Homo sapiens: one gene and its partners. The protein of the gene in region 3 interacts with the protein of the main gene of each other region in a biochemical or structural test. Each region holds a gene or a part of one and is shown on either strand. Other genes may lie near its edges. The genes, in order: SORCS2, NTRK2 and BDNF.

The links.
Region 1: the proteins of BDNF (region 3) and SORCS2 interact in a biophysical measurement, tested with the Homo sapiens proteins (one study listed by IntAct).
Region 2: the proteins of BDNF (region 3) and NTRK2 form a complex in vitro, tested with the Homo sapiens proteins (3 studies listed by BioGRID).

What each region holds. Positions count from the first base shown.
Region 1 is NC_000004.12:7,720,538-7,724,137, forward strand, and holds part of SORCS2 (VPS10 domain-containing receptor SorCS2), read left to right. Parts: intron 1-3,159; coding exon 3,160-3,346; intron 3,347-3,600. UniProt on the Homo sapiens protein: The heterodimer formed by NGFR and SORCS2 functions as receptor for the precursor forms of NGF (proNGF) and BDNF (proBDNF). ProNGF and proBDNF binding both promote axon growth cone collapse (in vitro).
Region 2 is NC_000009.12:84,721,594-84,725,541, reverse strand, and holds part of NTRK2 (BDNF/NT-3 growth factors receptor isoform a precursor), read right to left. Parts: intron 1,970-3,948; coding exon 1,833-1,969; intron 1,319-1,832; coding exon 1,186-1,318; intron 1-1,185. UniProt on the Homo sapiens protein: Receptor tyrosine kinase involved in the development and the maturation of the central and the peripheral nervous systems through regulation of neuron survival, proliferation, migration, differentiation, and synapse formation and plasticity.
Region 3 is NC_000011.10:27,698,388-27,701,987, forward strand, and holds the start of BDNF (neurotrophic factor BDNF precursor form isoform a preproprotein), read right to left. Parts: upstream 2,069-3,600; 5' UTR 1,777-2,068; intron 1,281-1,776; exon of another isoform or gene 1,019-1,280; coding exon of another isoform or gene 995-1,018; intron 1-994. UniProt on the Homo sapiens protein: Important signaling molecule that activates signaling cascades downstream of NTRK2. During development, promotes the survival and differentiation of selected neuronal populations of the peripheral and central nervous systems.

The DNA of each region.
Region 1 (3,600 bases), on a different chromosome or scaffold from region 3:
TGAAACACCCATGTTAAGAAGATGAAAGGCAAGCTACAGAGTGAGAGAAAGTATTTGCAAACCACATATCCAACAAGGACCAGTACCTAGACTAGAGGAAGAACACTCAACAGCAAGGAAACAAACCGTCCAGTTAGGAAATGAGCAGAACTGAAAAGACGTTTCACCAGGAGAATGGACAAATGACAGGTAAGCACACGAAAAGATGACAAACGCCATCAGCCGCCAGGGAAGCCCACAGCCAGACATCACTGCGCACCTATCAGAATGGCTGACATTAAAAATAGCGCCAGCATGAAGTACCGGTGAGGATGCAGGGAAGGACACTGGATCACTTACGCATGGCTGGGGAGACTGGAGAATGCCACAGGTGTTCTGGAAAACACTTCAGCAGTTTCTTAACGAACTCAACATGCAACGACCAGAGGACTGAGCACTTGCACTCATGGCGGTCATATCAGAGTAATGAAGACTTCTGTTCACACAAAAACCTGTATGTGTCTGTTCATAGCAGTGTTATTCACAAAGGCCAGAAACTCAAACCGCCCAGGTGCCCTGCAGTGGGTGAATGCACAGGCTGGGGTGCCCCCATGCTGAGATACCATGCTGCAGTGAGAAGGAATCCATTATTAATACCTGCAGCAGGGCCCAGCACGGTGTCTCACGCCTGTGATCCCAGCAGTTTGGGAGGCCGAGGTGGGTGGATCAGCTGAGGTCGGGAGTTCGAGACCAGCCTGGCCAACATGACGAAACCCTGTCTCTGCTAAAAAAAACAAAACTTAGCCAGGTGTGGTGATGCATGCCTGTAATCCCAGCTACTTGGGAGGCTGAGGCTCAAGAATCACTTGAACCTGGGAGTCGGAGGTTGCAGTGAGCCAAGATCCCACCACTGTACTCCAGCCTGGGCAACAGAGTGAGATCCCGTCTTAAAAAAAAAATAATAGTAATACCTGCTTCAACCTGGATGAGCCTCAAGTGGATTATGCCGAGTGAAAAAAGCCACTCCCACATGATCCCCTGCTGTGCCACTCATTCATATAACACTCCTGAAATACAGAAATGGAGAAAGAGAATAGAAATTATCAAAGTTATAGAAATGGAGAAAGACTAATGGTTACCATGGAGTTGGGCTAATGTGCGGAAGTGGGTGTGTCTGCAAAGGGCACCCGGTGGGGTCCTAGTGCTGGCTGAATTGTCCTGTCTCTTTCCTGTATCAGTGTTAACCTCCTAGTCGTGATACTATCATTTGGCAAGATGTTAGCCTTGGGGAGAGCCGGGTACGGGGCACACAGGGTGGATCTGTATCATTCCGTACAACTACATAGGAGCCTACCATTATCTCAGAAGACAATGTTTAATTTTTCTTTAAGCACCAGTAATAATAATGGATATAAATGAAATATACCAGGATGTGAATGGAGGGTATTATGGTGAGATTTAGTTTTGTTCTTTTTCTTTGCTTTACTATTTGTATTTTATATTATTTTCTACCTTGAGAATATACTACTTTTGTGGTCAGGAGAAAAAGACAAGTTATTTTAACCAACTGAAATGTTTAAGAAGTTAAATGTGCATCAGCGCAGCCCTTGAAGGCAGGAACACAAGGCCCCGAGAGGTGGCGCCTCACCCAGGTTGAGCGGATCACGAGTCCTGACTCTGGGTCACACATGCCTTCTCCTTCCCAGGATTAGCACAGGAAACACTTCCCTCCGTGGAAGCAGCTCAGACTTGAGCGCTTCCCCTCATTCCCCGCCCCTCCCTGAGAGGCTGCCTTTAAACAGAAAGAACCACAACCAGCGAGCAGCCTCCTGGGTCCTGGGCTTTGGAGAGCCTCAGTCTTCTAACCTGTCAAATGGGGAGAACGGAGCACCCTGCAGCCTCCTTCCTAGGGACCCCATAACAAATTATCTCATGCCGGGTGGCCTGAACCCACACAAGTCTCCGAAGGAGAATCCATTTGCACCTCCTCCAGCTTCCAGGGCTCCCGGCACTCCTTGGCCCCTGACAGAGTCACTCCTGCCTTTGCCTTCACCTCCACGCAGCCTCTGTCCGTGCCCAAATCTCCCTCTCCTTTCTCTTACACAGATGCCTGTCACTGGATTTAGGGCCCACCCTAATCCAGTATGACCTCATCTTAGCTAATGACACCTGTAAAGACCCTATTTCCAAATGAGGTCACATTCTGAGGTTCCCGGTAGACGTGAATTTTGGGGAGACACTGACCAGCTCAATTTACCACATCTGTGGAGAAAGTTAAGTGAACAGAATTTACGTAAAAGTTTTCTATCAACTTACAACGTTTGGCTGGTATAAACTGAGAAGATGGCTAAGTGGTTAGTAATCACGCTGTTTCCTCCATCATCACTAGGAAACGGTTTCCTCGTGCCCCTGGTGCCGGCGAGGGAGGAAGAGGGAAGGGGAGGAGAGGAGGAAGGGAGGGAGGGAGAATGTGATCATGAGCCATAAATCGAAGAAGTTCCTGTTTCCTTCACTCAATCCCCCACCTCTGCGAGGGAAATGCGGTTATTGGAAGGTGGAAGGAGATGGTGGAGCGGCCTCTCTGGGTGACTCGGTGCCACGCGGGGATGGCAGTTGGTGGGAGCTCCTCTCTGCACTCACCCTGCCCCATCTCAGCGTCACTCCTGGTACCGCATGGTCTGAGAAAGAGAAAATTAAGAACCGCAGCTTCCCAGAAAGGAAAATCCTGCTTGGTTTCCAGGCAGGCGGCTTAGGCACTTCCAGATGTGTTCCTCTCCCCTGCCGAAACCCTCCTCGCAGTGGGAGGCCCCTCACCTTCCTGGCTCCATCCCTAGCACGGGCCTCTGTGGGTCTCCCCCGGGCCCTGACTGCCCCCCAGCTGCTCTCTGATGACACCCTTGGGCCTCTCCCTCTCCCTCTCTGCCGCTGGGTGATTGTTCTGAAATATCCCTTGGCCACAGCCCCTAGTTAAACCAGCTGCCTTGGTCAGCCCCATACTCCAGGAAGAATCTCCAGGGCAGAACCAGGCCCGGTCTCCTGTGGGTCCCCAGAGCCCACTCATGTCAAGGAAGGGAGGGCGGCAATGAATGAATGAGTGAGTGAGTGAGTGAGTGAATGAACCACTCTGGCCCCTCAGCTTCAAGGCCCACTCCTGAGTGGCCACATGGTGTTTCTCTGCAGGGTGATGTCCTGACTACCAAGTACCAGGTAGACCTTGGGGACGGCTTCAAGGCCATGTACGTGAACCTTACACTGACCGGGGAGCCCATCCGGCACCGCTACGAGAGCCCCGGCATCTACCGCGTGTCCGTCAGGGCAGAGAACACGGCAGGCCACGATGAGGCGGTGCTCTTTGTCCAGGTCAACTGTAAGTTTATTGCCCCTTTGAGGCCAAAGGTCACTCCCTTTGAGAGAGAGAACCTGGCTTTGGGGGAAACACAGGGAAGCCCCCGGGATTGCTCTAGGCCCCTGGTACTCAGGACGGTGAACCCGAGGGCAGGGAGGCAGGGAGGCTGGGCTCAAACCCGCACCCCTGATGACCCATACAATAGTAGGGCAGAGCTGGTAGCTGGTGGTGATATTGATGATAGTGGTGGTGATGGTGGTGGTGGTGGTGGTGGT
Region 2 (3,948 bases), on a different chromosome or scaffold from region 3:
TGGGGCAGGGGCCACACTTACCTTCCTCCCACCAGCCCAGGTCCCCACACCCAGGGCCCATCATTCCTTCCACCATGCTCAAATGAATTTTGGGTTAGGTGCTGATTTAAGGACATACAGTTGAAAGTGCTTGCATATGTTTGGAGATAACATTGACTTCAGGCTTCTGAGTGGGTCAAAATGATGAGAAATTATGAGTTTAGTACCCACTGGGCATAGTGATTGTACTAACAATGATAAAGGATTACAGCTGATGATTTCAATCATTCACTCCAGCAATCACACACTGAATGTGTGCTATGAGTGAGTGTTAACCAGCATATTGATACCAGCTATGGCCATGGGTCTACACGTGTGTAAGTCAGACATACACTTACACACATGCATGTTCATGTTTTTCTCATCCAAATTCTAATCCAAATAGAGTAAAACCTCATTAATTTATACCGTGCCAGCTCAGAATTTACAATGACGTGAAGTGTCTATATAGTTTTTACTGAATATACACCTTCATGCTAAAAGCCATAATTTGGAATTTCAAAATGTATATTGTATTAGTTACAATACTGAAAAACAATGTACTTATGTTTAATTAAAAAGAGGGATATCTTTGAACTTAGATTCAATGTATACAGAAATTTAAAACAATAATAATAAAAGTTTTCTACCGGTGATAATAATTTTCAGTAATTTAAGTAGGACTAATCCTACCTTCTCACAGAAACTTGATAACAAAAGAATGAGGTTTTATTTTATCAACAGTACAATTAGGCATTTGTGAACAGCTAGTAAATACTTTAGGTATCATAACTTTAAAGCATCATATTGCTTTTATAGAGGAAGAAAGTTTTAGAAACTGATTTACGAAAATTTAAGCTAAAACATTAACCAGAGGGAGCAACCAGCCCAAAGTATATTCTATCAGAAAAAAGACAGAGGAAGGCACAAAATGACAAGCTCAAAATCGAAAAAGAAGCTTAAAAGAAAAAACATGCATGAGCAAGAGTTATTAAGCAGAAATTGAACAGTAAAAGAGGCTGATAATGTTTCTTAATAGAGTATGCACAAAACACTGCATATACTTTTTTTAACAAATTTAAGCAGCACCCAGAGTGCCCCAGCAACAAACGTAGGTACGTCCATGATCATTTGCTATTAAAAACACATGCCAGTCTGATTACGTACAATGCACAGTGAGGTTGACAGAATCTTGATCTTCTCCTACAAGATTTTCCGCCACACAAGAGATCTGCTTCCCACTGTCATCGGATGAAATGTTAGTTATCCTTAAGGAGCCCTGTGTGTGGCTTGTTTCATTCTACAAATGAATTAACAGACAAAAATAACCTTGATTAGGATTGATCCCAAAGTGACAAGATTTGGGGTTTCTTCCCCTAACTAGAGAAAATATGTATATATAGCATTAGAAAAGCTTCTCTGCCTGAACTGGGCTCAGGCGAAGAAGTAAATCAGAAGTTATTCTATTTCTCTAGGTTTCAATTGCTAAGTGCATGAGGTTGACTTGATCCCTGAATTCCCTCCAAGGGAGAAGACCACAGGGAAAGTCACTCGCTTTGTTCAGGATGATACAAAGAGCTCACTAGGGATATAGAGACTCCTCGCTCTCTTAGGTATGCATAACTAAAATGCAAGCCTGCATTAGTCTTTATTAATTAAGAATAAGTAGAAAGTGAATGTACATCAAAAACTCTTTGTAAATTTCTATATGTAGCCTTATAAAATATCAAATGATCATCACTAGGTTTAATACATTCTCGCATTCTGAAACACTCTTGTCTCTCTATTAAGACACAGCCAAACACAAGCCTTACCATATGTTTGGAAACCAGGTTACCAACATCCCAATACATATTAGGAACCGGATCACCTGCCACACTACAGGATAATGTGATAGACTTTCCTTCCTCCACAGTGAGGTTAGGTGCGGCCAGATTTGCAGATGGCAAACCTATGGAACAAGAAAAGTAAACAGAGGCATATGCAAATAGTTAAATGCAGTATCAAAATAAAAGCAATAAATTGAAAACTGTTTATGCTTTAAAAATCAATCTTTAATTGCTTTTTGAGACTGATTTCTGTTGATCTGAAAAAGTGCTACTTTGATCAGCTTCATAGATCTAACATAAACCAAAAAAAGCTATAATTAGATTTCAAAATAAATTATGCACATTACTTAAAGCATTATTGCCGAATAACCTTTTATTTCAAGAACACTAGTATAAAGAACTGTCTTCCACCTCTTTTCCTGTTCTACAGTTACTAATCCAGTTTTTGCACATAAACAGAGATTGTACATAAGGACTGACATCATGTCTTTTATTTCCTCCTGTCTCCTACCCCCCATTTTTTACTAATGCTCAAGAACACAAAAGGGTGAGATGCACCTATTTTGTTTTTGCAAAAATCTGTTTTTTGCTTTAAGTAACTCTCACAAATCTAACCCTCTACCAGACACAGATTTTGAAAGACTCATTCTATTGAAGAAAATGTAGTTTCAAAGCATTTTTCAAAGACAAGCAGTTTGAACTATTGCAGTGTTAGAAAGTTTCAAAGTTATATAAATCATAGTTAAATATTATAGGTAAAATTGCTATCTTGTTTGGAATATAATGAAAATGGGTTGGACTCATTTCAGTGAAAAGTTCTTTTTATTGGAAAGACTCTGAGAATGTATTTATCAGATGAAACTTTGAACCTCATAAACATTTTTAATAGTCCAGCAAAGCATCATTTTTATACTTTTATATTTCAAAAGCTATGTGTAATTTTAGGGATGCTGCTATCACTTCATGAAATTATCACACCAACTGAGTGTGGACACTGCTTTAAACTGCATAAGAATCATGGTAATTTTTACACGTAGGCATGTCTTAGAGGGTATAACAATATGTCAGGACCTGCTAGTGGAGCCTGTCCCTCTCTTGGTGTCAGGAACTCTGCTTGGGACTATAGTCACCCGACAGCTATGTCTTGAAGAACTATGATACATCATTAACTCAGATCAGAACCTGGAGGTCAAAGAAGGCGATTCATTTTCAACAGCCGTTAAATTGCAATTAACCCACCCACCTGGCAATATCTGACCCTTCGTCTTCACATTATTATGGATAAACCTTTCTCTTATCATGTATTCTTACCGGCAAAGCCATCTTTCTTTATTAGTGAAATCAGACTGGAATAAGATTTGTACAGTCTATATTTCATGGTTATCCCACCACTGGGAGAGGATTCCCCAATAAGATCTGGCTTTCAGGGGCTAGTGAGACCCCCCCTTCCAAACTCTTCCTTCCCGTAAGCATCCAATAGAGACCAATGTTACATCTTTCATGGGGTTTCAAAAAAAAAAAAAAAAAAAAAAAAGCCCCTAATAGCCAGAGTTATACAGGGCAATGAAATATATAACAATGATTAACAGAGTGTAATACAAGCCCCACACCCTAAACCTGGCACATACTAACTTTGTGGCCTTAGATGAGTCTGTTGTTTTTCTCAATGTGTTTTCTTCACAACTTCTATGACAATTAAGCTGTTCAGTTTATTACAGAGCATGTCAAGGCAAAATAGAAGAAATGGGCTTACTTAGTGAAAAATCTCCTTGAAGTCAATGGCATAATCTGGGTGACTTTTAAAAATATGTATATACTTAATTTTGTTTTTCAAAAATCAAATATTTAGTCACAAGAGTTGATAATTCTATAAAAATTACGAAAAAGATTCAAGCTACTATGTGTGAAAAACAGTAGTCCCACCTTACCCATGTGGCACTATTTCCTGTTCCCTGAGGCACCCATTTCATCTCTTTTAACTTCTTCTTTTGGTATTGCTCTGCTCATCACTAAGTATCATTCTTTATTGCTACTTGTTGGTTTTCCTGTTTCAGCAGTATCTATTGACCTCCCACTGTGGAAGATGAAATATAGGCTCGCT
Region 3 (3,600 bases):
TGCCTTGAAACGCTACATGCCATAACATCAGAAATCTCCAACCTAAAAATTATGTTGCATGAGATAAGCATTGAAGGCACACACGTTCATACAAATTAAATCTGTAATTATGCCTCAATAAGTTAAAATGTAAAGACATATCAAATTGTAAGACCAAAATGGCTTTTGACCTTACAACAAACTCATATAAAAATAGATTTTTCCATAATAATAAAGGGGAGAGAGAGATTTTGCAGGATATTGAGTCAGTAGGGAGGGGTCTCATTTAATATCATGTCGCCTTTTATATGCAGTTAGAAAATCAACGTTCCCAATTACATATTACTTTGCTTTAAAAGATTACTAGGAGGATTAATAAACACTCAGAAATATGCCTTTCTTTGCTTCTGGCCAAGAACATTCCTGCGTGCTTGTCGGAAAATGTTCTTTGGTTGCTACTGACATTAAGGAGTAAGTGCAGGATAACTAGAGGACCCTAAAATAAGATCCAAGAAGCCCTAACACACCGCCAATCGAGGCTTATCAAAGCTCCCCCAGCGCGAGGAAAACTTGCATAGAAGCCAAACAAGAACGAGGAGTCAAAATCCACCGACGACGAGTCGCACGCCCCACCGAGCTGGAGTCAGCAGCACCATTCAACAAGTCCCTCCTACCAGCTCTCTAAGGGATCCCGCAAAACCTTCCTTTACCACTTCCCCACCCCCAGCCTCCCGCCCCCAGTAGCTGCTCTTGGCAGCATGGCCGGCAGAGGGCACCCTCTACCTTCCCTAGCTTCGTTCTCTGGGTCCCCTCCTCCTCCTCGCCTCCCCTCCACCCCGGTCCCTCATCCCCGCTCTACCCCCAACACACAAACACTGCATCCTCCAGTTCACCCTCGCAGCCCCGAGGCTTCTTCCTTAGGGATGCCCCTAGTCTGTAATCTCCCCTTCTTCTTGCCCGTCAGGCACAGAGCCCCCAATCCTCAGCTATTTCTTTCCAGGAGTAACTCACTCACCCATTCCTCTTCCCGGCTCTGCATCCCCAGAGACTAACCCGAGTCAAGAATCCCCCACGTACATCCCAACCACTCCCCGAAAGTCAAAACTCTTAACTTCCCTGGAGGGCGCTTCAGAAGAGGGGCGCAGGATGGGTAGAGATGTGGGTTCGGCCTGCCCGAGAGTGTCGCAGACCCTTTCAGTTCCCAGCGGTAGGAATTCCGCCTCCCAAGTTTTCCAAGCTACATTGGCTTCGGACTTGTAAGTCCACTTCAGTCTCAATTCCTGGGGAGCAGGTAGCCGTGTGCAGCTCCGGGGAAGGGATGCGGGCTGAAGGCGCAAGCTTCCCTCCCACTCCCCCCGCAAGTCGGCGCGGGGACCACCCACCCCCTGGAAGGATTCCTAGCCTAGCCCCAGCACCCTCCCCTCAGTCAGGACCCTCGACAGCTCTGGCCCCCTAAGTCTCTCTCGACTACTCCTGGGCTGGGGGAGGGCTGCGAGGGATCCCCGGGTCGCCGTCTTTGCTCCCATCACGCAGCTCTGGGTCTCCTCCAGGCCTTCCCTCCTCTACTTCGTGACTTCCCCGGGTCCCTTTTTCCCTGGTGGTGCCGGCTGACCTTCTGGGTTGTGGGATGGGGGAGAAAACTCCCCAAGAGTAACTCCAAATCGTCCCTTCTACCGGAGGGGAGGAAAGAAGGAGACTGGCCTCGTCCCACAACTTTGGGGTGGGGGATCCCCCAGTCAACTCTCTCCCGCGGACGGGCAGCTCCTGCACCAAGCCCCATTCCCAGCGCTTGCCTACCTCGGGGTCCACACAAACCTCACGGGTCCCCGGCGGCGGAGTCACATCGTGGTTCCGATTCTGGCTCCAGCGCCCAGCCCCGGTCCCCGTCGCGGTGCTGCTCCCCGCCGGCCCCACAGCAGCGGTGGGTGTCTCATTAAAGCCCCCCGAGCAGGAGGTGGAGGGGCGCACCGGGCTGGCTCCTCTGTCCGGCCCGGGAGCCCGAGGCGCTACGGGGTGCGCGGGACAGCGAGCGGGCGGGTGCGCCCGGGCGCGGCGGCGGCAGCGTCGGGGACCCGGAGCTCCAGGCTGCGCCTTGCGCCCGGGTCAGACATTATTTAGCTCTTCGGTTGAGCTTCGATTGGTCAAACGGCGCCGCCCCCCCCCCCCCGCCCCCCGCCCCCCGCTCCCCGCTCGCCCGCGCTACCGATACCCGTTCGAGGCGGCCGCTTAAAGGGAACGCCGCGTCTTTTCCTCGCGCGGGGAACCGAGGGGCGCCCGGAACTCCCCGCTCCCCCGGGGCCTGTCCTCACCTCCTCCCCTAGGGCCCCGCGACATCGCCCTGCGAGTCCTGCGCCCTCCTGGGGCGCCTTGGACAGGACGCCCGCGGCTTCGAGGGGTGTTCCAGCCCCAGCCTCAGCCCCGGGGAACCCCGCGTCCCGCGCCCTCTGCAGAAACCCCGGCTGTGGGCGCTGGGGCGGGAGGGAGCGAGTGAGAATCGCACGCCCCGAGGTCTCGCTCCCCTAGCTTTCAACTCTCCCCTTCCTCCCCATCCCAGCACCCAAGTTCTCTGGGAGAGGGCGTGCGTTTCCCGGGCCACAGACACACCTTCCCGCACCTTCCTGCACTACGGAGCTTGCGAACGCGAGCACACAATGAAATCGCACAGAGCATGGGGGCTATTGGTTTACTCTGCTGCCTTAAACACGCCGGCTTAAACAGAGTTCGCGCACTGACCTCTCTAGAGTTTGCCTAATAGGAATTCAATCAAGATAATAACAGCATTTTTTATTGATGAACGCCCCCAGATAACGTTACACCAAGTTACTTGTTCCAGCCAGGAAGCCCAGGCAATGACAGACCTCGCTAAAGCCACACGCTTTCTAGCCGACCAAACAGAAAAACGGAAAGAGAAAGAAAGAAAACAAACCCACCTTTTCAGTCACTACTTGTCAAAGTAACCATCAAGGCAGCTGCTCCGGGAAAGACTTCGGCCCCAAAACTCCCACACTCTATTATTTTTTCACGTTCCCTTCGCTTAATTAAAGGGGGGAGGGGGCGCGAGTCTTTGGTGCCCGGTATGTACTCCTTCTGTTCTGCAGCAAAGAAGTTAAATTATTGATAGTGGAAATTGCATGGCGGAGGTAATACTCGCACCCCATCAGCGAGAAGCTCCATTTGATCTCGGCAGAGGCAGGGAGATTTCATGCTAGTTCGCCGGGGGGAGCGGCAGCGAGAGCAGCCCTCTCCGCGGTGAATGGGAAAGTGGGTGGGAGTCCACGAGAGGGCTCCACGGTGCCTTGACGTGCGCTGTCATATGATACCTCCGCTGCCTCGAAATAGACACTCTAGTGCACGAATTACCAGAATCAAAATTCAGCGCATTTAAAATGATACATCTTTTATTAGAAGAGTTCCGTTCCAGGGCATTGCATGCTTTTGCAGATGTTTTCACTTCCAGCCCCAGCAAACACACGTATAAGCTAACCCTTTTAATAACGAACCAGGGCAGCCAAGATAAATAAAAAGTCTTCTGCTTTAACCAGAGTGGGGGTAGGTGATTCGAGGGTGGGGGCAGAACTGGCTCAGTTAATCCTCCCCCGCCCTCCACCCCCACCACTGCCC